Linked DNA regions of Homo sapiens: all the other regions are linked to region 1. Evidence: fine-mapped expression QTL. A gene starts in region 1. Each other region holds a variant in brackets. All regions are shown on one strand. Distances are from middle to middle.

The links. PIP is the estimated chance that this variant, and not a neighbour inherited with it, causes the effect. A credible set is the group of variants that fine-mapping cannot tell apart.
Region 2: its variant is the best candidate, but not a certain one, in a credible set for the expression of MED15 in skeletal muscle (GTEx, PIP 0.57).
Region 3: its variant is the best candidate, but not a certain one, in a credible set for the expression of MED15 in putamen (GTEx, PIP 0.87).
Region 4: its variant is the best candidate, but not a certain one, in a credible set for the expression of MED15 in tibial nerve (GTEx, PIP 0.64).

Annotation. Positions count from the first base shown.
Region 1 is chr22:20,504,013-20,510,072 of GRCh38, reverse strand. MED15 (mediator complex subunit 15) reads right to left here and starts at 2,463. Exons shown (of 18, transcript NM_001003891.3): 1 at 2,327-2,463. The coding sequence starts at 2,394. RefSeq lists enhancers at 2,371-2,480, 4,360-4,859.
Region 2 is chr22:20,555,022-20,560,021 of GRCh38, reverse strand. MED15 (mediator complex subunit 15) reads right to left here. Exons shown (of 18, transcript NM_001003891.3): 5 at 4,874-5,000. Among named protein-coding and RNA genes, the nearest start is that of MED15, 50 kb to the right of the region's middle. The variant T/G (reference allele first, on the strand shown) is at 2,553.
Region 3 is chr22:20,533,014-20,538,013 of GRCh38, reverse strand. It overlaps MED15 (mediator complex subunit 15), which reads right to left. Exons shown (of 18, transcript NM_001003891.3): 2 at 810-897. Among named protein-coding and RNA genes, the nearest start is that of MED15, 28 kb to the right of the region's middle. RefSeq lists an enhancer at 289-458. The variant A/T (reference allele first, on the strand shown) is at 2,274.
Region 4 is chr22:20,579,300-20,584,299 of GRCh38, reverse strand. It overlaps MED15 (mediator complex subunit 15), which reads right to left. Exons shown (of 18, transcript NM_001003891.3): 10 at 1,553-1,689; 11 at 1,333-1,460; 12 at 1,053-1,187; 13 at 907-970. Among named protein-coding and RNA genes, the nearest start is that of MED15, 74 kb to the right of the region's middle. The variant C/T (reference allele first, on the strand shown) is at 2,641.

The DNA of each region.
Region 1 (6,060 bases):
GGTAATTTGTTAGAGCGGCAACAGAAAAACACACAAACAGCAATATCGAAAAAAATAAAGAACTCAATTCTCCCGGAAGCAAAATAAAGCTGAGTTATGAAGTATCCAGTCACTCAACACCCATAAACTCTTCAATCACCCTCCCAGCCCTCTTAACACTTCCCCTACCCCCATTTTCTTTGATGACAACTCACCCTTCCAGTTCTTAATTCTGGGCTTTCCCAGAGAAGAACCCTTGCCCTGGGGACTTTTCTTGCAGGAACCCTGAAGTGGGATATCTCTCAAGTTTTCACCTACAGATAACTATATTTTATCAGTAAAACACTGTTCACTGATTGTGCAATATCCCCAGAAATATCCCAAGGCTATTCTTCCCAAAGCCCATAGCTACTAACTCTACAGTCCCTACTCTTTCCACTGTACTGAAAGGTTTCCCAGCATTCAGCCCGGCTTCCTTCCTTCCACAATGCTTCACCCCACACCCCACCCCCCTCCATCCAGTTAGTCATCAAGAATTGTCTACGTTCCCCCTCCTCTGGAATCTGTCTTCCTCTTTCAGTTTCTACCACTGTCTAATGCAGGCCTTTATAATCTCCCGCCCGACTAGGTCATGCCACAATCATTTTACGGAGCAATGTGGCAGGCAGTGAGCTAGCAGTGAGAATATAAGGATGAAAAAGGACAGGTTCCCTACTCCCTCCAAATGTTCAAACTCTCTTAATAGCTTAACTGGTCTCTCTTCTCTGCCCTGCATCCATCTCCAGGGACAGGGACTCTAGGCATATTCCCAACACTGGCATTTCACTACTCCAAAGAATGCCACATGCCAAACACAGGCTCAATTCCTTGGCACAACACCCCCACTAAAGTGCTAGTACCTGCTCACCCTCATTCCATCATCTCCTGGGCTCTCTTACTCCTCGAGCCCCAGAACTCTCAGCCTACAAGATCCTCCCTCCACGCAGTAAATGCTCATGTTTCCTAACTCCTCAGCTTGGAATGGTGGCTATTCACACTCCTACTTGTCTTTCTAGGACTCAATTTATTCGTCACCTACTCACTAGACTGCCCCTGGTCTGCTCAAGTTAACCGCCGCTTCGCAAGAAACCCCTGCAGTATACACATTACAGACTGACAAGACTGCGCTGTGACGGTTCCTTTACCATCCCTCAGGAAAGGGGCTGTGTCTCAGGCAAATCTGTGGCGAGCACAACACGCCAATAAGCTCAGTTAAAAACTGTCAGGCCTCTGAGCCCAGGCCAGGCCATCGCATCCCCTGTGACTTGCACGTATACATCCAGATGGCCTGAAGTAACTGAAGATCCACAAAAGAAGTAAAAACAGCCGTAACTGATGACATTCCACCATTGTGATTTGTTCCTGCCCCACCCTAACTGATCAATGTACTTTGTAATCTCCCCCACCCTTAAGAAGGTTCTTTGTAATTCTCCCCACCCTTGAGAATGTACTTTGTGAGATCCATCCCTGCCCACCAGAGAACAATTGACTAATTTTCCATTACCTTCCCAAATCCTATAAAACGACCCCACCCCTATCTCCCTTCGCTGACTCTCTTTTCGGACTCAGCCCACCTGCACCCAGGTGAAATAAACAGCTTTATTGCTCACACAAAGCCTGTTTGGTGGTCTCTTCACACGGACGCGCATGAAAAAAACTGCTAACAGAAACAAGCAGTCGGTGGTGAGGGGCTAGAGTTCCTCTGAGCGGGGCCACTGACCCCAGCTCTTCACGCTCTCCTCCAGAAACGACGATCGCTTCCTGACAGCGGCTTCCTGCCATCCTTCGGCAAAGTCCACATTCCTTCGGGGGGTCACCCTCAGATCCTCCGTCCCACCGCCCACACCCCAAACAACTACCTTCCCAATCTCATCTTACATCCACCCTCCTCCCATCACTTTCTTTCACCGTTGATGCGCTTTTCTGGAAGAGAAACCATGAAGCACCCAGCCCTGCTAAACCCACTACAGCCGGCTGCTTCTCTCCCTTTCCCTATTCAGTGTGGTTCAAAAAGCGGGGGAAAGTCTGCACCCAAAGCACACAAATGACGAATGAGAAAGCTCAAGACGATGATTCATAAGCCAGGGCTCGTTGGTTTGCAGAGCTCGGCCCCAGGAAAGCAAACGAGCAGTCCATGTCGGGAACGGAGGGGACAGACGGGGGGGCCCGAGCCCTGGGACCCACGCAAGTCCCCGGCGCCTTCTGTCTCCCGGCGCCGTAGGTTTCTCACGGGTCCGGCCCTGGCCTCGCCCGCCACGCTAAGGAGGAAGGTCCCACAATCCAGCCCCCTGCCCCGACCACTACTCACATTTGACTGACCAGCTTCTGCCGGAAGGCGGTGCTCCGCCAGTCGGTCTCTTGCCCGGAAACGTCCATGCCTGTTCCCCAGCTCCCGCCGCCCGTATCCCGCTTGGCCGCCACCGCCGCCGCCTCAGTCACAGAGCCAGGCCCAAACCCGGAAGCCGTCCGCAGTGCCTCGGCCGAGCCGGAAGTGAAGGAGGGCTTGTGGGAAATGGAGTCTCGCGCACAGGCTTGTGGGAAATGAAGTTCCCCGCCGGGGACGAAGCGGTCTCGGTTCCGCCCGGCTGGGAGACACACGCCCCTCTTCCAGTGCAGCTGTCGGACACGGCAGGTGCTCCCGCAGCAGACCTGCGCCTGACCGCCTGCATTTTCTGCAACTCTTCAGTGTGCTGGCCTTATCTAGTCCCTGAGATCCAGACCCCTCCGGGATGCCAGGCCAAGCTGCCAGCTATCTATAGTAATGCTAGGGAGAGAGTGTTTATTTATCAAATATGTGTGGGTACCTACTGTGTGCCAGTGCAACGTGATCTGGGATCTGCTTTCATGCAACTGCCTGCTAGCGCCGCATCCGAAGAGCGACCAGATGGACTCTCATCACCGCTTCACTCTTCGATTTTTTGAATCTCACATCTCACAATGGCTGTATTTGGGGGTTGGGAATGTGAGGCCCCTAAACCACGTTAATTAATTTTTAGACATGGGCTTTCCCTTTTGACCAGCAGCCACGTCCCCTTCATGGAGAACTCAGCCTAGCTAGTTGCTGGAGGCCAGATGTCAAACGAATTTGATAGGTGAAGGTGAGCGAGCTGAAGGTGGGATGAGGGGTTATGGGGGCCTGAGAATGCTTTTAGGAATGTAAAAGTTCTGCCTCCTTGGAACTATGGGGCCTTTATCTGCTACCCTGGGGAGGGAGGTGACGTGAGGAAAATCTGGAGCCCAAGTGGTCAATAAGCACCAGGTGGACACCAACCAACATGGGCCTCAGGAGACTGTGGACTGGCACCTACTGAAGCCTAAGTGCCAGGCCCCTGCTAGGCACTGTACACCCCTTACACCCCTTGTTACTGTGCCCCAGACAGGAGGTTGAAGGTGGTAGAGAGTGGGTGGGAGAGGAGTGAGCACTCTCCCCAAAGAGGCCTCTCTTGCCAACAGAGTTTCATGTCTTGTGTTGATGTGAGAGCTGTTCATGTTTTCAAACGTTTTCTGCTCTAATACTCCCAAAATCGTTATTGTTTTTTTTGAGGGGGGGGGGATAGAATTTAGCCCTTGTTGGCCAGGCTGGAGTGCAGTGGTGCCATCTCGGCTCACTGCAACCTCTGTCTCCCGGGTTCACGCAATTCTCCCACCTCAGCTTCCCCAGTAGCTGGGATTACAAGCGTACCCCACCATGCCTGGCTAATTTTTGTATTTTTAGTAGAGACAGGGTTTCACCACGTTGGCCAGGCTGGTCTCGAACTCCTGACCTCAGGTGATCCACCTACCTCGGCCTCCCAAAGTGCTGGGATTACAGGCATGAGCCACCGTGCCCGGTGGCAAAACTAATTTTTTTTTTTTGAGATGGAGTCTCGCCCTGTTGCCCAGACTGGAGTGCTGTGGTGACATCTCGGCTCACTGCAACCTCTGCCTCCCGGGTTCAAGTGATTCTCCTGCCTCAGCCTCCCAAGTAGCTGGGATTACAGGTGCCTGCTACGAAGCCCAGCTAATTTTTTGTATCCTTAGTAGAGACAGGGTTTCACCATCTTGGCCAGGCTGAAAACTAATTTTTAAAAACTCTATCTAGAGTGATCATCTTGACCGGGGTTGCCCAGGACATCCAAGGTTTTAGTGTTTTTTTCCTTGTTTTATTTTGTTGTTGTTGTTTGTTTGTTTGTTTTTTGAGATGGAGTCTTGCTCTGTTGCCCAGGCTGGAGTGCAGTGGCACAATCTTGGCTCACTGCAAGCTCCGCCTCCCGGGTTCACGCCATTCTCCTGCCTCAGCCTCCCAAGTAGCTGGGACTACAGGCGCCCGCCACCACGCCCAGCTAATTTTTTTGTATTTTTAGTAGAGACAGGGTTTCACCGTGTTAGCCAGGATGGTCTCGATCTCCTGACCTCATGATCCGCCTGCCTCGGCCTCCCAAATTGCTGGGATTACAGGCGTGAGCCACCGCGCCCGGCCCTTGGTTTTTTTTTTTTTTTTTTTTTTTTTTTTTTTGAGACAGAGTCTCACTCTGTCGCCCAAGCTGGAGTGCAGTGGCGCAATCTCAGCTCACTGCATCCTCCGCCTCTCAGGTTCAAGTGATTCTCCTGCCTCAGCCTCCTGAGTAGCTGGGACTACAAGCACCTGGCACCACATCTGGCTAATTTTTGTATTTTTGGTGGAGACAGGGTTTCACCATGTTGGCCAGGATGTTCTCAATCTCCTGACCTGGCGATCCACCCGCCTTGGCCTCCCAAAGTGTTGGGATTACAGGCGTGAGCCACCACGCCCAGCCTTGTTTTCTTTTTTTTTGAGACAGAGTCTCGCTAGGTCTGCCAGGCTTGAGTGCAGTGGCGTGATCGCTTACTGCAGTCCCCGCCATCCGGGGTTCAAGTGATTCTCGTGCCTCAGCCTCCCCAGTAGCTGGGACTACAGTGCGCCACCACGCCCGACTCATTTTTGTATTTTATTTTATTTTATTTTTAGTAAAGATGGGGTTTCACCATGTTGCCCAGGCTGGTCTTGAACTCCTGACAGGTGATCCGCCTGCCTCGGCCTCCCAAAGTGCTGGGATTACAGGTGTGAGCCACCGTGCCCAGCCCCAGGTTTAAGTTTTGAAAGTCCTGTGTTCTGGCTGGGCATGGTGGCTCACGCCTATAATCCCAGCACTTTGGGAAGCTGAGGCAGGTGGATCACCTGAGGTCAGGAGTTCGAGACCAGCTTGGCCAACATAGTGAAACCCCGTCTCTACTAAAAATACAAAAGTAGCCAGGCATGGTGGTGTGTGCCTGTAATCCCAGCTACTCAGGAGGCTGAGGCACGAGAATCACTTGAACCCAGGAGGTGGAGGTTGCAGTGAGCTGAGATTATGCCATTGCACTGCAGCCTGGGCAACAAGAGCGAAACTCTGTCTCAAACAAACAAACAAACAAACATGTTAATAGGATACTTAGGACAACCCTCCCCCTTCTGCACTATGGTTGATGGAGACACAGACACATAATTCACAGACACAGACAGAGAGAGGCCTGGAACTTTGCCAGGAGTTTATCATCACAGTAAAATTGAGTGACTATTCCCTTTGGTATTTTCCCCAGAGCTCTTTTTCTACTTGTCCCCGCATTGGGTTGGTGCCCAGGGCAGTGATCCCTGGTGACAGTCTGGATGGGTGACCTGGAAAGGTGGACCAAGGAAAGTAAGGGGCCACAGGAAGGTTGATCCTGAAGTGGACTTGCCCTCTCTTGACACTGTAGACCCTCCTGGGATCCCCAGTCTGGATGTTAGTGGTTTAGATGTCTGAGAATAAGTGATGGAGGAAGCCGAGGGTATGCAGAGGCCAGACCTGCATCCCACACTATGTTCTGGGGATCCTCATCTCGGGGGAGATCCTCACTGCTCATGTGGCCATGTCTCTAGCCTGCGGGTTCCTGCAGGCTACCATGCCAAGGCTGGTTCCACTCAATGGCCACATATTTCCTGGACACCATTCTGGGCTCTGCAGGAGGTAGGAGCTGGAAGCTTCCCAGGCAGATCAAGCTTCCCCCTAGAGAGCTCAGCACAAG
Region 2 (5,000 bases), 50 kb before region 1:
AAAATGTCTCCAGACATTGTCAAATATCCCCTGTGGTGGAATGTCACCCTGGGTGAGAATCACTGCTTTAGATTTATACACATTTACTATCACCTATGCTCAACGTTTCTTTTCCCATTTTACCTTGTATCACCTGAGAGGGAAGAGGAAAGGATAAACAAAAGAATATATCTAAGAGTGCAAAAGGCTTATTGGAAAAAGGATAAAAAAAGATATATCCTTTAGAAAATCTTTTAGTGATGGTCTCTAAGGCTAGGTTTATCTAAAAATGGCTTGCTTTCCACATCCTTGAGTCTTGCTGGCATACAAATGTGACTGGCAGCTCTATTCTCAATGCTTTAACAATATTCTATTACCTTTCTGACTCTACTGCTGAGTGTACTCATTGCTCCTTTGCAGGAACTGCCTATTTCTAAGACATTCCTCTGGCCTTTGGTGCTCTGCAGTCTCACAGCAGATGAGATGGCTAACTTGGTTGGGGCCAGATGGGCTTTTCTCAGTAGTTATCCCCTCACATATTGTTTTCTTCCATTCTCTCCATTTGATCCTTCCGGGGCTTTGCTTGGATGCCAATTAGAATTTCTGATCTTATCCTCATTTCTTACCCTTGCTTTCACATTTTCCATGTGCTCTTCTCTGTGCTACATTCTAGATAATTTCTTCAAATGTAGCTTCTATTACACAAATTCTTTCTTCAGCTGTATCTAATGCGCTGTTCATTCATCCACTTTCTTCGTTCAATAATTATATTGCTCATTTCTACAGCTTTCATTTGGTTCCGTTTCAAATCTGCTTCATTGCTCCTGATGATGCTTTTTCATTTGAATTTCTGCTCTTTCTTTTCCTTTTTGTTTTCTATTTTTTCAGAGATGGTGTCTCGTTCTATCCCCCAGGCTGGAGTGCAGTGGTGCAATGATAGTTCACCATAGCCTCAAACTCCTGGCCTCAAGCAATCCCCCTGCCTTAGCCTCCCGAGTAGCCAGGAGTGTAGTCGTGAGCCACTGTGCCCGGCTCTCCACTTTATTTCTTTATATACCCCATGGCCCATAACTAACAGTTCCTGTGTGTGTGGTCACTGGGCATGCCTACATGTGTCTATTTTTTCTGTTCACCTTCATGGTGTCTCTCCTTCCCTTCAAGGCTGGTGATCTTTGTATGCTGATTGCTTGACCTTAATGTGCAACTGTCACAGGTCTTACACTGGGGACATGTTCCTCCAATCCGCACCTGCTCCAATCTGCACCTGCTTCTGGGGGGTATGGGGGGTGACACAGGACCCAGCACAAATCCTGGCTGACTACAGGAATCCCAAGCTTTCTTCCCCCACCTTGCAGCAGCTGAGGCTCAGGAGGACAAAGCCTCCCCAACTGCTGCAGGCCAGCATTCCAAAGTGCATCCTAACCAGAACCTAGTTATCCAGGAGGAGAACATGTCCTCAGCACCCCAGTCCATCACACAACTGGCAGTAGAAATTATTTTTAAAGTCGGCTTTACATGCACGTCATATAAAACTCATGAGAAACAAAAATGCGCAGAGTGAAAAGCTTTGCTTCCAACTCTGTACTGCAGCCCCAGCCATAGGAACAACCAGCAGTTTCAGCCTTTTCCGACTAACCTGGGTCACCTGAAAACTATCACAATGTCCCCTGGCCTACCCTTTGAGAGTCCCTGGCAAAACCTCTGACCCAGGCTCTGTCCTCTTGGTGGCACTAGATGAAGATCTGAAAGGGCCTTAATCATGCAGTAGTCTTTGGGAAAGGTGTCAGGAAGGGGTATCAAATGCCCATCAGACAACACTACTAGTTTCAGGGAGACCAGGGAGGCAAGTGGTGAAGGGCAGGGAGAGTTGGCCTCTGACAAAGGTGGTAACAAGATCCTGAAGTAGAGAATCCACTGTAACTTTTTCTTTTTTCTTTTGAGACAGAGTCTCGCTCTGTTGCCCAGGCTGGAGTGCAGTGGCACGATCTCGCCCCCTGCAAGCTCCGCCTCCCAGGTTCATGCCATTCTCCTGCCTTAGTCTCCCGAGTAGCTGGGACTACAGGCACCCACCACTACGCCCGGCTAATTTTTTGTATTTTTAGTAGAGACGGGGTCTCACCGTGTTAGCCAGGATGGTCTCGATCTCCTGACCTCGTGATCCGCCCGCCTCAGCCTCCCAAAGTGCTGGGATTACAGGCGTGAGCCACCGTGCCCAGCCCCCACTGTAACTTTCAACTAGTGCCACACAGAAGACCAGTCCCCTTGGAAGCTAAAAACAGGATGTGGGGGCCAAGGCCAGACTGGGGAGGGCGTGGGCAGGATATCAAGCTTCACCACTGAACTTCTGACAAAGAACTGGTTTAAGACAAAGTCTCTGAAGTGGGATGACAAGGCAACTCATGTGAGCATTCTAAACTCATACATTTAAAAACAATTTATTATCAAGTATAAGCTCATGATTAAAAAAAAAATGCACCAAGTACACAAGAGTAGAACGTGACAAGGAACTTGAGCCGGCACTTCTGTGGGTCCTCCCTAAACCCAGCTGGTGTACTTATCTGATGTGCTAAAAA[T/G]AGTGAGGTAATGAGAGCTTGGGACGAAGAACCAGGCAGATTGTTCTAGGATGAGGAAACCAGCACGTGCTGAGAGTTAGACAACAGGAAGTAAGAGGAGAATTAAGGTATGAGAAGGGAAGGTGGCTTGGGATGGAGGAAGATTCCAGAGCAGGAGTGGGTAGAAATGAGGATGCCTATGGCCCCAAAGAAGAGGAAACCTGACACAGGATAGGGTAGGAGTGTGAGGATGGGGTCAGGCAGCAGCTTCGATCCCAGCTCTTGGCCTGGGGTGTGACTCCAGTTCTCCTTAGCAGCTGCTACACTGACAAAGCAGAGGGGGCGATGCTGCCCTCTTCATAGGGTTATCATGAGGGATGTGTGACAAAAATATATTGAAGCACTGAAGCCTGTACACAGATATCCACAGCAGCTTTGTTTGCATAATAGTAAGCAAAAGCAGGAAACAACCCAAATGTCCTTCATGGGTGAATGAATAAGCAAACTGTGGAAAATCCGTTCCATGGAACACTACTTAGTGATGAAAAGGAATGAATTACTGATAAAACCTGGCTGGGTCTCAAGGGTATCAGATTGAATTTAAAAAGCCAATCTCAAAAAGTCACATATGGTATGATTCCATTTATACAACATTCACAAAGGGACAGAACTACAGAGACACACAACAGATCAGCAATTGTCACTGCTTAAGGCTGGAGGGAGGGCGCGATCTCTGAGAGGTAACACAAGAGAGTTGGTTGGTGGTAATGGAACGGCTCCGCATGCCAATTGTGGTGATGGCTACTTGATTTGACACGTGGTAAAATCTCACAGACCTACACATACCCATATATGTAGCCCAAGAATGAGTGTAAAAAAACTGATGAAGTCGGCTGGGCGTGATGGCTCACGTCTGTAATCCCAGCACTTTGGGAGGCTCAGGAGAGAAGATCACTTGAGGTCAGGAGTTTGAGACCAGCCTGGCCAACATGGTGAAACCCCATCTCCACTAAAAATATAAAATTAGCTGGGCATGGTGGCAGGCGCCTGTAGTCCCAGGTAGTCGGAGGCTGAGGCAAGAGAACTGCTTGAACTCGGAAGGCAGAAGTTGCAGTGAGCTGAGATCACACCACTGCACTCCAGCCTGGGCAACAAGAGTGAAACTCTGTCTCAAAAAAAAAAAAAAAACTGATGAAGTCCAAGCTAAGTCTCTAACTGAGGTGATTACACTGCCTCAACATTAATTTCTTGGTTTTGACAATGTTCTATGTAAGATACTATTATTGGGGAGAGCTGGGTAAAGGGCATGTGGGAACTCTCTATGCTATTCCACAACTTCCTGTGACTCCTATTTTAAAAATAAAAAGTTACATGAAAGGGGAAAAAAACACTAAAGCACTTTGCAGTGGGCACAGCACACTCTAAGAAATGTTGATGGGACTCAAGGATACATCAAGATAGGTCCTAAGGGCAGGCGCGTTGGCTCACGCCTGTAATCCCAACACTTTGGGAGGCCGAGGTGAGCAGATCGCTTGAGCCCAGGAGTTCAAGATAAGCCTGGGCAACATGGTGAAGTCCCATCTCTACAAAAAATACAAAATATTAGCCGGGCGCGGTGCTGTGAGCCTATAGTCCCAGCTACTTTGGAGGCTGTGGTGTGAGGATCACCTGAGCCCAGGATGTCCAGGCTGCAGTGAGCCGTGATTGTGCCACTGCACTCCAATGTGGCCCACAGAGCGAGACCCCGTCTCAAAAGACAGGTCCTGGAAAGAAGAGGGAGGTTCTTTGCCTCCCCTTTAGAGCAGCTTTGGTTCACCTATAACACCTGATCACAGCCCAGTTTCCCACCACAGCAGCCGTGTGGAGAGGACACAGAGTCTCCTTCACAGAAAGGAAGCCAGAAGATAATATGGCTGCAAGCCACACCCATGGTGACCAAGGGGCAAGGGCAGCACTAGAAGAGATGGTGCCCAGAGCTCGGGCAGACAGTGGAGTTGTGGTTGCTGGCACTCAGCCCTGCCTTGTAGCTGAGAACCCTCTGAAACACACTGTATCTATTTCAGCCACAAAACACAAACCTTTGGATGGAGTCTCAGGCCATCCCCACCCTCCTGCCCAGGGCTAGGAGGAGGAGGAGGGCCCAGCATCACTTAACCCTTCTGGGAGCTCAACGAAAATTGGAAGCCTTTTCTCTCCACATACAACAAAGATTTAAAAAACAAAAAAACCAGAGCGATTTGGAGCTTCTCCATGCTTTTCTTGATACCATCATAAGCACAGGAATAAAATGTGTTGTCGTTTGCAAGGAAAGCGGCAAATCCTCCAAGAAGTGTGGTACTCACTCTGTGGAGTTGCCGTAGACACGACAGCCATGCTGTGAGGGGCCATCCCCGAGGTCCCAGGAGGCGGCTGCCCTGAGAGAGACATTGGCTGTCCCATGGCACCAAGGCTACCCATCCCGCCCAGAGA
Region 3 (5,000 bases), 28 kb before region 1:
AAAGAAAAAGAAAAAGCTTATCAAACGTATCCGTAGTACAGAGCCCACTCTACCCCACCTCAGTGACACGTATCCATAATACAGAGCCCACTCTATCCCACTTCAGTCACACGTGTCCATAGTACAGAGCCCACTCTACCCCACCTCAGTCCCTGTGCTCTTGCAGCTCTGCCTTGCACACACACGTGCACACAAGTGAATATGTGTTTTGTTCATTTCTAGTAAAACGGTTCTGTCCCAGGGAGCACACACAGATTAAAGGAGGTGGTCACATAAAGCCCTCAGTGTGGTGCCCCACCCAGGGAGAAAGCCCACATATAGTGGAAATCCTTCTTCTCCACTCCACCTGTGGCGAGTTCTAGATAAGCATCACCTTCTTCACTTAGCAAAAGGGGACAGGAATGCTTCTGGGCCCATGCCTCAGGGCCCTGTAGGGCTTAGGTAAGGACCCCTAGGAGGGGCTGAGGACAAACCAGGTTCTTGCTCACGGCATTGATCCCTTCCACAGGACCAGCTAGGGGCCTGAGCAAGCTTCCTGTAGGATTCACAGGGGCTGACCACAGATGGAAGGTGACGGCAGTGAGGTCTGGGGCCAGAGGCTGGGCCTGCAACCCAAGTGCCCTCCCTGTACCATGGACACACAGGAGGACCCAGACTGCTGCAGGCAAAACCAACTGTGCCTGTGATCAATCGATGAGCAACCACCCCACCCCTACACCCTAGGACACCCAACAGAGGGGTTCCAGAGTCTGTGATGCTCTCCTCTCCAAGTCTCTCTGCCAGAGTGGCTCCACTTACTAGGGCCTTACCCGGGTCTTGGCCTTCAGGAAAACATGGCTCTCCATATCCTTGCTGGATTTACTGTGTGCCACACCAGCTTTCCTCATGGCATCCTCGCTGAAACACAAAAGGAGAAGAGACGTTTGCACACACCAGTGACTCCACCGCTGCAGGGCCCTGGCCAACAGGCCCTGCATAGCAGCTGCCCCTGGTGACAAGGTGCTATCGCCAGCACACCAGCCTGGCTGAGGTCCAGGAGAGGCATATGGGAAGGGGCACTCAACAGAGAGCAATGACAGGCCACTGAGCAGGGTGATCAGAAAAAAGGGACAGGAAAGGTGGTCGCCATGAAGCAAAGAGAGAGCCCTGGCATGAAGGGACGGGGCGGGGGAGGGGTTGCCCCTAGGGATGGCTCACAACCAGTTCAGGATCAAGGAAGTACGCATTAGACTACTGGGTGGCCAGCTGGCCTCTATTTCCTGCTCTCTGAGTGGCCTGCGTTCCCCATGAACTCTGCCAGATGGTAGCACCCTGGTTCTAGACTCGATTACTCCTATAAAATGAAGGGGCCACATGAAGTCATCTCTCAGTCCCTCCCAAGGCAAGGGTCTGTCCCTATGTGGGACAATGCAGGTCCTATATGTGGGATCAAAGAGACAAGCTCCAACTTCACTTCTAGCTAGAGACAAGAAGAGAAAGACCACATAAATGTGAAAAATATCTTTAAAAACCCATTTACCAACAATTTTGTACTAAGAGATAGAATCCTATGAAGAGTTTTTCATCACACTGCTGCTCCACGGGGATAAAGAGCCATGTACATCAGTTAAGGTGGAGACCCCTCGAATGCAGCACATGCTGCCCCACCCACCCCCACCCCCACCTCCCACACTCACACACAGAAAGACAAAAACAAGTGTGAATCTGTTAGAAAGGCCTGGCCTGTGGCTCCCAGGGGTGGACTGCTCTGGTGTGCTCACTGCCTGCCTTCTTGCCAGTGGGATGGGTCTCTTCCTTGCCTGGCCTCCCACCCTGGGCTTGCTGATAAAGAAACAAGTGGCCAGGTGCAGTGCCACACGCCTGTAATCCCAACACTTTGGGAGGCCGAGGCGGGTGGATCATCTGAGGTCAGGAGTTCAAGACCAACCTGACCAACATGGTGAAACCCTGTCTCTACTAAAAATACAAAATTAGCAGGGTGTGGTTGCGCATGCCTGTAATCTCAGCTACAAAGGAGGCTGAGGCAGGAGAATCGCTTGAACCGGGAGGTGGAGGTTGCAGTGAGCCGAGATTGCGCCACTGCACTCCAGCCTGGGTGACAGAGCGAAACTCCATCTCAAAAAAAAAAAAAAAAAAAAAAAGAAAGAAAGAAGCAGGCTGAGCACGGTGGCTCACGCCTGTAGTCCCAGCACTTTGGGAGGCCAAGGCGGGCAGATCACGAGGTCAGGCGAGCACGACCATCCTGGCTAACACAGTGAAACCCTGTCTCTACT[A/T]AAAATACAAAAAATTAGCTGGGCATGGTGGCAGGCGCCTGTAGTCCCAGCTACTCGGGAGGCTGAGGCAGGAGAATGGCATGAACCCGGGAGGCGGAGCTGGCAGTGAGCGGAGATTGCGCCACTGCACTTCAGCCTGGGCAACAGTGCGAGACTCCGTCTCAAAAAAAAAAAAAAGAAAGAAAGCAAAAGAAAAAAGAAACAAGCAAACATGTCAGGGCTCTGGGGCCTTGCCTCTGAGTGAATTGAATAGGCCCAGTCCAGCTCGTGCTAGAAAGCATTCTGACCACTCCAAACAGCAACCAGCCAACCTCAGGAAACTGAAGGAATGTACAGACGGGGCTACAGCAATATGACTGTGATTCTTAAAGACATCACAGAAAGGAGGTTTAATGCTGAGAGGTGCATACATCTGTCTTAATGTAAAAAGAAAAACAAAATGACATTGACCTACCACCCTGCTAGATTCAAAAAGCACTCTTGGGCTGGGCACGATGGCTCAGGTCTGTAATCCCAGCACTTTGGGAGGCCGAGGCAGGTGGATCACCTGAGGTCAGGAGTTTGAGACCAGCCTGGCTAACGTGGTGAAACCCTGTCTCCACTAAAAATACAAAAATTAGTCGGGTGTGGTGGCAGGCACCTGTGGTCCCAGCTACTCGGGAGGCTGAGGCAGGAGAATCGCTTGAACCCTGGAGGCAGAGGTTGCAGTGAGCCAAGATGGCACTACTGCACTCCAGCCTGGGCGACAGAATGAGACTCCTGCACTCTTGGAGTTCCTACCTCCCTGTCTGCTTCCTGAAGCCTGAAGGGAGGCGAGGAGGCAGCAAGGGGTTTCTGCTCACAAGGCATCCAGGTGTGGAACAGACAAGTAAGAAAGGTCACCAGGGCCACAAAAGATGAGAGAGTTAACAATCCAGGAGGATAATGACAACCAACTCACGCGCGGCACTGGGTCAGAGTCCTGGGGAAGCGAGGCATGGGTGGGCTGGGAGGACCCTGTACTCATGCTCTCAGGTTAGCATGGGGCAGGGTCTCCACACCCAGAGGCTGAGACGATAGCTGCTAGGCCCCAAGAAGTCAGTGAGCATTTCTGATAGAAGTGGCTGCACAGGCCTGTTTTCTGAAGGTTGCCTCATCTGTGCCCCTCAAGGCAGGTATGCCCTTCAAAGGCATACTTGTTCTTCCCACCTTCCTTTTTTCTTTTTCTTCTTTTGTTTTTTGAGACAATGTCTCACTCTCTCACAGGTGCAGCGCAGTGGGGCAAACACAGCTCACTGCAGCTTCAAACTCCTGGGCTCAAGTATCCTCTCACCTCAGCCTCCCAAATAGCTGGGACTACAGGCATGCGCCACCACGCCTGGCTAATTTTTTTATTTTTTACTTTTTTTGTAGAGACAGGGTCTTGCTTTGTTGCCCAGGCTGGTCTCAAACTCCTGGCCTTAAGTGATCCTCCACCTTGGCCTCCCAAAGCACTGGGACCAATAGGGAGACTCAGGGAAGAGCAGTAGAAACAGCAGGGGAGCATTTGCAGGCCAAGCAGGACGGCCTGGAGGCTGGCTGTGTAAGGAGTGGGGAGGCTGTGGGTGGCAGATGTGGCCAGGAGTCAGAGAGGAAGAAGGGTGCAGAAGAGTCTGGGGAGTGACAACCAGTTACACAGATGGGCTCTGTGCCCACCAGCAGCGATCAGAGAGCAAAGCCAGGCTTTGATACAAAAGCAGTCCTTTTGAGCTGCTACTGGCCGTTTTTGAGAGTGTCAGCAGACTGGCAGGCCCCAGACAGACACTGTCTTGGTGCAGCAGAGACACCTGGCACAGTCAGAGAGACAAGATCTAGAAACACAGCTTAGTGCAATAGCTCTGAGGTGGTGGGATGACCAGGTTGAAGAAATATGCTTGGTGAGCTGAAGGCAAGGTGGCACCATACACCAGGGGATGTACTGGCAGACGGGCCCTGTCCTGTCCTGGGTAATGTCACAGATGACATGGACACTGTGGGCACCGTCAGCTACTCAGAGCCTGAGGAGCATGGACCAAGCTGGAGGCCAGAAACAGGCAAGTCTTGACAGGCCAACACCAGGAAACCGAGTTGGGGTAAATGTCCAGTTCCACATGAGCTTCGGAGGGTCAGAGTGGGGCCAAGGAGCAAGGTGCTCCTCCGGCAAGGCGCTCCTCCAGCAAGGCTACCGCTCAGAACAGCAGCACTGTGCCATGTCACTCCCACATCTCTCCCACAGCATCCACCCAGGGAGGCCCAGCAGGTTTGGTGGCCAGTAACAGACCCTGTGTGGTTTTGCAGTTCTGACAACTGTATTTTTGAAAATGTCTTTGCTCCTGTTTCTAGTTTGAAGATCAAGTGTCACAAAATAGAGACAAAGCGAAAAAGAACCCAGGAACTCTGCAGCTAATCCCCCACACTTCCCTGCAGATGCCTGCCCTTTCCTCTCCAGCTGGCCTGGCGCTTTTCAGAGGCATCCCCTGCCTGGACATTGACTCCAGGAGGGTACCCATTTCACACTCCTGCTGAGGTCAAGTCCCCTTCCTTCCTCCCTTAGACCTAACACACCCGCTGCGGGAGGCTGCAGGCAGGACCCAGGCCCACCTTCAGAACAGCACTGGCTGCTCCCAAAGCCCCCTTCTGATCTCCCTGAGCTGGGCTCTGCTGCCATCCCCAGCATGCCTTCCTGAGCAGCCAGACCCGAATGGCTACTCCTCAGTCTCTGTCTCCTGA
Region 4 (5,000 bases), 75 kb before region 1:
GATCCCAACTACTGCCACTGGGCCTCAGCCATCAGAAACCTCTGCAGGAGCTCCTACCAGTTGACCAGCTGTTCCCAGACCCAGAGTTGAAGGCAGGCAGCCCTCAACCCCAGGAGCTGCTTGTCCCTGGTTGGCAGAGTGAGGTGATGGGTCAAGAGAAGGGACAGTGGCCAGGCCCCTGATCAGGCTGTGAATGCCTCATTGTCATGTAGGCCAGTCCCTGCCCCACTCATCCCTATAACCCTAACAAAGGATCAACCCATGAAGACCTGGAGGACCACCCAATAGTGACTGGCATTCTATCCAGACAAGCAGAACAGAGAGACCCTTCTAGACAGGGGTTGGGGGATAGCCTGAGTTGAGGTGAAAGGGAGGTATATGCCAATGCCCATGCAGTTTGGAGGTACTGCCCGAGCTCTGATCCTCACAGCAGCCTGTGGCCAGCAGCCCTGCCTTCCACCTGCTTCTCACCAGCGCCACCTTGTTTCATTTTCATGACAACACACGTGGGCTACAAATGGGGTAACTGAGATGCAGTCGCCTGCCCATGGTCACCAGCAAGTCAGGGGCAGAACTCCAGGTCAGGCTCAGGCCCATCTGGGCCAGCTGATGGTCAGGCCACTGCAAGCTGGGCCCCTGGCTGCTGACTGGATGAGGTCTGGCTGTGATGGCCCAGCATGAGGGCCACAGCAGCAGCCAGGAATAGGGCAAAGGCTGGGCATGGGCCAAGATGAAGCCTGGGCTTGAAGCCCCAGCACACACCAGAGTGGAGCCTTGGAGGCCTCTGGCCAGGGTCCAAAGAGCTGCCTGGTGCCTTTGTTAAACCCACATCATCACCAAGTGCCCATCCATGGCTGGGCTATCTGTGCCCTTGTGGACCCTCCGTGGGCTGTGGGCAAAGCTCACCGCTTCGAGGGGTCTGTCAGAATGTCCAGAAGGCTCTTCATCTTACTCAGGTCCTTTTTTCTGTCTGGGACAGAAGAGGGTACACACTAAGACACAAGCCTGGTGGTGTCCCCAGGGTGCAGGCCCCTGCCCTGGCTGCAGCCTACCTTCGTTCTTGTCGATCTTGTTGATCATGCGGCGCAGGGGCTCGATGTACTTCGACAGCTGCTTCAGCTTGTCCAGGTACTGCTGCTCCTCAGCCTGGCTGGAGCCAGCTGGGCTCATGACAGAGCTGGGGTTCACTGCAGGACACAGGCGGGTGAGGCCACAGCCCTCGACCCTCGGGTGGGGAACTTGAGCTCTGAGGGCCCCAGAGCTCGCACACCCAGTATGAGCTGAGGCCTCATAAAGGTGAGGAGTGACCTTAGCACCTCAGGCCCAACTTACCAGGTGTGTTTAAAGGTCCAGGTGAGGGGACACTGAAGTTCTGTGGGGTCCGCGCCGTCACTGGGCTCTGGGAGGGCTGCGGTGAGGGGCTGGGCAGGAAGCTACTGGGAGATGGGGCAGGGCCAGAGCTGCAGCCAAGTGAGAGAAACATGTGAGCCGGGGTCCAGGCAGGGCCAGCCTCGAGGGCCAGGTGGGGAGGGGCACCCCAGGCCAGGCCTACCTGACGTTGGAGTTGGGCTGTGAGCTGGGCTGGCCGGGCTGCGGGGACGGCTGGGGGGGAGGGGGCATCGACTGCGGGGTCTGCACCTGCTGGCCCGGTGACGGCGAGGACAGCATGGGGAGGCTGCTCTGGCTGACCTGGAAGTGGAGGGGCTCAGCCGGCGCGCTGCCACACGCCCGCCCGCCTGCCTCCACACCACCTGCCCACCGCACGCATAGGCCCATCCTCCCGCACAGCCTCACCACACACCTGTGTCTTCATCCAAATGCCACCTGGACATACACACAGGCACACTCCCCCAGCCTGGCACACAGCATGAGGTGACCAAGGGGCTGGCGGGGGGGGCCCAGGCAGGGCAGCCCTTGCTCCTTGGCCAGGGACCCACAGGGGCACAGGCTTTGAGGGCTGTGTCGTGGGAGTGTGAGGAAAAGGGCAGTCTGGGAGGCAATGCCCTTGGCTGGCACTAGCCTGGCCTTCCCTGACACGCCTGCCTGTCCTGTGACATGCTCCTCTGTGGGTCGGTGAGGACCCTGCTCTGCTGACCAGTGGGACCGTCTTCCCACATGCTTCCACAAGCCCCCGCAGCCCCCAGGCTGACTGCACCAAGGACAAGCCTGGTGGCTACAGCCATCTGTTGTGGTTAACACATGCTGCTGCAGGGCTGGTCCCAGGCTGTCCCACCTGGACCTGCTTAATTGGAGTGAGGTGGCCCAGGGAGCCACACACACACCCATGGTGGCACTTGCATCGGCCCACACCAGCGCCCCTGGGAGAGGCGAGCTACTCAGTGTCAGACACCTGGGCCCAGAGCCTGGTTCTGCCATGCAGGTGTGCACCTGAGTCCTCTGAGGCCCTGTGTGTATGCAAAGCAAGGCTGTTGCTCTGCTCCCCAGGCCTTGCTGGCCACGACACAAATAAGATCAATCACCCCAGTGTCTGCACCAGGGACACCACTGTCTTCATCCGTAAACTCTAGGGATGAAACCACACCACCCAGGCATCAGGGATAAGCATATGTAAAACACCCACACCTTCCTGGGGTGGAGCACAGATGGCTGCTTTGATGGGGAGAACAGCTGCCTGCCAGC[C/T]CTGGGCGTCTGGCCTCCCCTAGAGGGACTCTCAGCAAAGAGGGATGCCTTGTCACACTGGGGGAACCCTGAAGGCCCTGCTACATTTCCCACACCCTAGTCAACCCCCTGCATGCCAAGCATCCCCTCACAGTCTGCCTAGGAGCCAGGCCCCTGGACCATCCATTTCTGTAGACCAACTCAGTGCTTCTCCTGGGGCACTCTGGCCATGAACGCCTGTCTCGGGCCACGGCTCACACCACCCCCCAAGCACTTCCACCACAGTGCTGTGAGTACTGGGATAGGACAGCTGCTTTCTAAGCTCCTTAAATTGGGGACCAGGCCCAGAGCCCACAAACAGAATGCTGCCCTCCTCACCACCCCACCAGGCAGCAGAGGGCAGGGTGGCACTGCCCTTTCAGCACCACGTGGACCAAGCTCCTGGAGCGAAATGCTCTTTCTGTCCTGCCTGTTCCATGGGCTGTGCCTGACAGTGCTGCAAGGGATGCTGGGTGCAGGCCGTTCCTGAACCACGTGTGCTGGGAGACCAGGGGGTGGGGGGCTAAGGCACAGAGCGTGACCACAACAGGGTACTTCCAGCACAGCTGGGTCAGAGGTCCCTATCCAAAGCCACTGGCCCAGTGGGACATCAACCGATGGAATGGACTGTTCCCACTGCTTTGTGGTCAAGACACCTCTGCCTGGGAGAGGAGGGACAGAGTGCAGGAGCCCCAGCCTCGGCCTGCCGGGCCTCATCACTCTACCTAATGGAGCAAAATGGCTCGCGGTGATTCTCGCAAAGGTTAGCAAGGTCAGAAACGGGGACTGATGTGACTTCATTTGCTAAATGCTGAGTTGAACAAGTACAGAGATTTCTCCCACCAAAGTCCTGTGCATTCACGGTGCTGGGGTGCACAGAGCCCTAGCTGAAGAGGAGTAAGGGCATGTCCCAGACACCGGAACACATGTTCTAGACTTATCCAGGTGTCAACAAAATCCCAAGGCCAGAAAATTCCATACAGAGAACCACAGACGGCACCGAGGAGTGGGAAGCAAAGACTCTGGGCCCCATGCTCAGCCCAACTCTGCCTTTTCTGACCCATGCTTGACTTGCTGCTACTCTCTACCTGCACCCCAGAAAGCTGTCTCACAAGCTCACCTCTCTTCCTGCTTGAAGGTCAGGGCCCCTCCCCTTGCCTCTACCTGACTGCCTCTTCCAGAGAGGCGCCTGTGCCTGAGCAGCTGTCCCTTCTAGAAGATGGTCAGCTCTTTTCTGTGGCCTAAAGCTCAGCGCTTCTCTGAGGAGCAAGGCAGCTGCAGGCTGGGCAGAGGCTGCCAAGCAGAGAAGGCCACCACACAGCCCTCATTGCCACTCAAGAGTTCTCATCTGCTCTCGAACCTCAGGAAGCCCGGCACCCACTTTGGCCCTGAAGCGGCAATCTCACCAGCCACGCCCGTGGGGCCTCCAAGCACCCACCCAGAACTTAGGTCTATCTCAGTTCTTCAGCTGCCCCAGGTCAGGGCAGCTGGTGGCCAGCAGAGCCTACAGGATGGGAGACAGGGAGATTTCTAGTGGGAAGAAAAACAAACGAGGGGCACCCTTTCATTTCCAAGAGCACAAGAGCAGAAAGCCAGGCCCTGTGCCCAGGTGTCAGTGGTGGACAGTCCAAGTCCAGCACCTGGGATGAGAAGCAGCCCCCCAAAGACTCATCTGAAGACACAACTGGCATTAGGGAGGCAGCCAGAGAGGTCGGGCGCCGGTGTGTCACAGCTAGCAAAGGCCCCAGGACAAGAATGTCACACATCCTAGGGAAGGAGTTTCTGAGTGCACACCACCTGTCACCTGTGTGTCACAGGTTGGGAACAGGGAGCTCAGAGGGAAGTGACTTGCTCAAGGTCATCCTAGTGATGAAGGGAGCTCAGGCACGCTAAACATCAACACCCCAGCAACACCACCACCCCAGCAACAATGGCCTGAACTGCATTTCTGGGAAAGGGACCCACACAGCAGCCTGGAGCTGAAGGCAGGTGGACACCGAGTGGGCCAGAGAGGAGGTGGGAGGGCAAAAAGGCTGGTCCAGGGAGCTCCATCTCACAGAGGAACCCTCAGGCAAGGCTGGCGGCACTGCGCGATCCCCACCCCCGCCCCCACATACTGGGAACCGTTCCTTGCTCCTGGCTCCGGCACTCAGTGTGTCCCCTGGAGGCACTCCCCAGGGTGCAGTGGAACACGGGTCTCACCCTGGCAGCTGGCAGCCAGCAGAGCCCAGAGGATGGGAGGCAGGGAGATTTCTAGTGGGAAGAAAAACAAATGAAGGGCACCCATTCATTTCCAAGAGCACGAGAGCAGGAAGCCAGGCCCTGTGCCCAGGTGTCAGTGG